2 separate regions of the Homo sapiens genome follow, and region 1 is linked to region 2. A link means that fine-mapping ties the variant in region 2 to the expression of a gene that starts in the linked region. Tissue or cell type: whole blood. Region 2 holds a variant in brackets; the other region holds the start of a gene. All regions are shown on one strand. Distances are from middle to middle.

Evidence for each region. PIP is the estimated chance that this variant, and not a neighbour inherited with it, causes the effect.
Region 1: SLC8A1 starts here. The variant in region 2 is fine-mapped to the expression of SLC8A1 in whole blood (TOPMed, PIP above 0.99).

Annotation. Positions count from the first base shown.
Region 1 is chr2:40,450,391-40,453,156 of GRCh38, reverse strand. It overlaps SLC8A1 (solute carrier family 8 member A1), which reads left to right and starts at 1,067. Exons shown (of 11, transcript NM_021097.5): 1 at 1,067-1,253.
Region 2 is chr2:40,510,058-40,512,823 of GRCh38, reverse strand. It overlaps LOC101929667 (a long non-coding RNA gene), which reads right to left and starts at 902. Exons shown (of 5, transcript XR_007086295.1): 1 at 737-902. It also overlaps a transcript of SLC8A1 not described here. The variant C/G (reference allele first, on the strand shown) is at 1,016.

The DNA of each region.
Region 1 (2,766 bases), 60 kb after region 2:
GTGTGATGCGCAGCCAGGTTTGGAAGCTAGTGAACTCCACAGTAGGTCTAGCCTTTCACCACGTGAAGTCATTAAGGGTTTGTAAGAATGAATGAGCTGTCAAGAGAGGAAAGGCCTGGTGCAGTGTTCCTTTATTAATTATGAGGAAAGTGATTTATTGGCAATGATAATGCTTCTCTTGGAAAGGGCAAAGAATGGTTCGTCGATTGCTGCATTAGGTTTTTTCCCACTCAACCTTAATGCTCGGCTTTTACTCCTCACTGTAGTTTAAAACCAGCACGCCTTTCACACGAAACAGACTCTGGGTCTTTATTCCCAGGTGAAACGCATCTTTGAGGGAAATACCAACACAGAGACTCTGTCCCAGTTCTTGGCCGGGGGACACCCTCCCCCGAATATCTCTGTTTGCTTGTGTCAGCATCTAGTAGCCAACGTATAGTTGTGCATATCTGATACGTAGAAAAACACAGGGTGAGGATTAAAAAAAAAATCATTGATATATGCCCAGATCCTTTTGCTAAAAGAAAGCTTCCTTTAGCAGAAGGGCAGGAAGTGAGGGAAGAAAGATAGTTGGATTAACAAAGTCAGAGGTGAGAAACGGGTAGGCGAATTGGGGGTCAGGGTTCTGTCTGCGGAAGAGAAGAAGAGGGTTCAAAAGAAAAGTTGCAGCGCCTGTGTGCGCGTGTCATCGATGGGCTGGGTGCGAGAGACAGCGCTAGCGCGCGGCCACAACGCACTGCGGGGCCGAGAGCCGGCAGGAAATCGAAAAAGCTGCTCGCCGGCAGAGGCTGGGAGGCTGGAAGGGCTCCCCACCCGCTCGGTGCTCCAGAAACGCGCCGGCTTTGCCCCGACGCGATCGCCTGGGGAGCCCAAGGGGCGCGCAGGGGGCCCCGGGGCGCCCGGCAGCCGCGGGGCCGAGCGCGCGTGTGAGCGAGTGCGAGGCTGCGGGCGGCGGGCGGGCGAGTGTGCGCGGGAGGGAGGGGGAGCGCGCGCGCGCCCGGGCCCCGGCCCTCCCAGCCTCCCGGCCTCCGCGCCTGCCTCCCGCCCGCGCGCACCGCTGCCCGCTGCCGCGGCTCCCGCTCGCGCCGGCGCTGCACGGTAGTCAGCCCGCCGCCGCCGCCTGCTTTGTGCTTCCCACAGAAGATGGGAGCGACCTCTTCCTGATCGGGAGCTGTTTAAAAGGAGGGAGTGCGCCGTATTTTCTACTAGCGTGGAGGAACGGAGGAAGAATCCATTCACACTCCCCAAACCAGGTAGGATCTTATGATGGACAGGCAGAAGGCATTTAGTCAGAGACCAAGAACTATTTTCCATTTGCTGCTCATAAGGCTACACTTCCCTCTGCTTTGGCAAACGAGCGGCTTCTAAATTTGTGTGTGTGTGTGTGTGTGTGTGTGTGTGTGTGTGTGTGTGTGTGTGATGTGGTGTGTGCGCGCCTGCACATTTTTCTGGGTGTCCGCGCTTCCCAGAGTGAAATTGCTCGGGCTGGTGCGTCTGGGCGTGAGGGTGCCTGCCTGCCTGCCAGTGCAGGCTGCCGGAGGAAGAAAGGGCTGCTAAGGAGAGATGCTGCACCCTGCACCGCGCTGGGCTCTGAGGATTCAGGGCGCGAAGAGCTAAGTCCACCCCGAATGCAGAGCTGCTGGGGATCCAGGCGTCCCCACCCACTGGACTCTTCTCCGCGGACATCCCTCCTTCCGGTAATCCCTGGGGTCTTTCCCCAAGGCCACATTTCCGAGCCCCCTGTTTTCCAGCGGGCGTTGGGTGCTCATTCACCACGGACTGCGGAGAGGAGGGAGGTGTGGCGGGGCAGAGACAGACGAGGAAGAAATGTAGGGGGTAGCAGGGAGTGGGCTGCGGGGTCCACGTCTCTGGGCACTGTGCCGTGGTGTGCTTTGGGGATTCTGCACACACAGGCATCTTTCCCCAAGAGATTGGAAGGGAACTTTGCAGCTGCATTCTCTGCCTCTGGAGCTTTGCTGGCTCTTGGGGGAAATGGTCTGTGTTCTGAGATGTGAAGATATCCTTTTTGGCTCCTCCTTAATGAAGAAGAGGGCGGTCTTATAGCTGGACAGCCGGCCAAAGAAACCAAATCCGCCCAGGCGATGCTCTTGAAAATACAGTACGTGTGCATCCTTGATTCTTTAAATCCACCCCCTGCATCACCCCCGCCTCTTCTCTATCCCCCCCACCACCCCGTGGATTCTGTTGCTGTTTGATGAATGGCTTGGGCTGGCAATTTGTATTTCCCTCTCCAAAGTGGTAGTGGTTGAGTTGAGAACAGGGGTGATGAAATTTAACAAAGCATTTTTAGAAGAGAGCAATGTGCATGTTGTACGCAGTCATTGGAAAGTCATGCTTTGCGCTAGGTATCCTTTTGAAGCCCCCGAACCTGGCTCTCCTGAAGCCGCTCTCTCTCTCTCCTGCTAGTCAGCTACTAGTGGTTGTGAATATAACAATACAAACTTTGTCCTGCTGGAGGTGTAAAGACTAAAAAGAGAAAAAAAGGATATCAGTGGGAGGTGTAGTGGAAGAAGCTTTTTAAAAAATGACAGATGTGGTGAAGACAGTACAAGCGTCCTGATCATGGAGGAGCCTCTAGCTGAGTAGGTGGAGATTTCTGATCAGATCTGGTTAAAGGCATTGCTGGAGTATCTCCAGATATGAGCAGTTGAACATGCACAATCTGAGACTTGTGCGAAGATTTCCCAAGGGAAAGAGGGAGCCACCAGGAGAGAATTCTGAAAGTATACCTCTCTTTCCCATGCC
Region 2 (2,766 bases):
TCTCTCTGTTTTCATAAAGCTAGGCGAACCCACACCCTAAAAGCTTTATGTGGGAATCAGGTAAAAATTGGTTATGATCTAAATATTTGGAGAGTAGAAATGCCAATCTCAAAAGTGTTTTGGAAAAAAAAAAAAAAAAAAAAGCATAGTGACAGGATCATGTGGTGGGAAATGGGCCTGGCTGGAAGAATCGCTATATGTGTATTTTTATCATCCATGTGTTGGATGAAGCAGAGAGCTGCCAGATAGCTTCTTTTCGACAGCTTGGAGTTACTGTTGGGAACAGATCCATGTATGGAAGCGAAAGCCGAAAGGCACAGATAAGCTGAGATCCAGCTATGCAAACCATGTTTAGAGACACTTAAAGGACAAGCATCCCAGGTCCTTTCTTTCTGGTAAATTTAGAGAAGGCATCATACTGGGATCTTTTTTCACATCCAGCCCATGCGGACTGAGCAGCCAAAGCTTGACAGAGGTAGGTGCCGGGCTTTTGTGATGGAACTTCTATAAAGGATCATTTGCAAATATTTCCTCCAGAGCCCTTGATGTCCTTTAAGGGAAGGTGCCAGATAATATTTTGAAAAGAAAAACAAACAAACAAAAAAATAGGTTGGAGCTAGTGACTAAGAGGTATTTAACAGCTCTGCCTCCACAAGACAGGGAAGCTTTGCAACGGAAGGAAAGTGGCAACACAGATTTGCTGCCAAATAAAATCCCTCTGTCCTGGGTCACTTACCATTTGGAATTTTGTGGATACAAGTCTTCCTCGATATTGCCAGCACCTTTAGAAATGAGCCACAGCTTCCGCGGGGTTCTGAGACTCACTGTGTATTTTAGGCTAGGGTAGGTGGGATTTGTCTTTTTCCTTGCTTGTTCTCAAGCCAGCAAAAACTCGCATGTGTGACTAGTTCTTCCTTAGACATAGGAAGAGCTGCTTGTAAACGACATTATTTTTGGCAGCTGAAGTCATTTTTGCAATATTTCTCAGCAGTTCGGAGGTTGATTACATCCTGTT[C/G]AAAGATTCTTGGGTTGTTTTCACAAACACGGGGTCTTACGCAAGTTGAAGTTGCTGAAACCAGCTGTGAGCCCTGGGCTTTTCTCAGCACCTTTAAAATTTTGTCTTCTTTCTTTTTTTTCTACTGACTGAAAACTTTGGAACTTGAGAGGAAATGTTTCCAAAGATTATTATCGTTTTGTCATCAGTGATGTTTTGGGAATAGATTGTGGCAGAATATCAAAAATTCTGTGTCTCAGGAATGATGCAAGGTAAAAGTGTGAATATGAACAGAGTAACAACACCAGTATCTATACGACTGTCCTGTATTTTCTAGAATACAGATAAATCCAGCCAAATCATATCAATTGCATTTTGAAATGCGACTCCAGCTAATTACCAAATTGTAGTTATTAAATTAAAGCATATCTGTTAAAATTGTTAGCAAAGTCTGTGAACTCCTGCCAAACACAAAAGTCAAGAGAAAAAATTATAGGTCATATCTTTAAAATATGCATGTTTTGCCAAGATTGAATTAAAAAAATTTACACAAGATAATGGGATTTAAACTCAAGATTTATTTTACTGAGAATAATGTGTCCATAATTCAAATAAGATTTGAACCAATTGTTTTTACTTAGCTAAGTTTTCAATCTAGAGTATGAGTGGGAAAAAAGAAAAGAGAAATGGAGAAATATTGAATGTGACCTTCCTTCTCTGATGACAGACATGACATGGAAAATTATTAATAAGCAAGTGTAAGAAAATAAAAACAATTTGTAATACTGACCAAGGAGATGTTCTCTGGATAAATTAGATGTCTGGGAAAAGCAATTCATTTAACAGATACAGATGAAATGACTACTTATGTGGTGGTTTCTTTCAAGCTCTGAATGTCCCATTACACCAAAAAAGTGGCAGAGAAAGAGGAAATGTGTTTTTATTTCAATAGTGCACTATAATTATTAAAATAATTACAATACTAAGGGATTGTTTCCATCAAATTATTCTTTTATATGCCTATTTACATTGAGAGCACATTAAAATAACATATTTCTATATTTCTAAAATAGGCTATTTTACTTAAAAATACTAATATTCTATATTTGTGAGAGAGTTAGAAAGAGAGAGAGAGAATAAACTATGCCTTCTTTTTTTAAACTAACAGAGACAAGCTGTCATAACTTTTGCTAAAGTGGAACAGGCCTACGAAAAGATGGCTTTAAAATACTTAATTAAACACTATATACCAGCCGGCTTCTCAAAAGAAACAGCACAGCAGGAGTCTTTGCAATTTTCAATATGTAAAAGGTTGACATAAATGATGCCACTAGTGTTTGTGAACAGATGCAATGCATATATGATATCAGCTACTATCTTCTCGTTTGCCTACTGCCAAGTGCATTTCAAGTGTGCACTCCTCATGAGAAATGTCTGCTCCTGTTTTTTCTCTTGAAAACTAATCCAAGAAGCATAATATAAGTAATAGACAATGACTTACTGCTAATTTTGTATATACTATGTCAACATTTGTGGAAGAAAATTCATGACAGTCAAGCTACTTGCCCTTTTATTTCATGACTTCTTAAGCATTTAGTGATGACTATACATCTAGAAAATCTTAAAGAAATCATATTTTGAGAGGAAAATTGAAGGTGTTGGCAGTCTTACGTAAAAAAATAATAAATAAATAAACAAAATGGCGGCCGGGCACGGTGGCTCACGCCTGTAATCCCAGCACTTTGGGAGGCTGAGGAGGGCAGACCATGAGG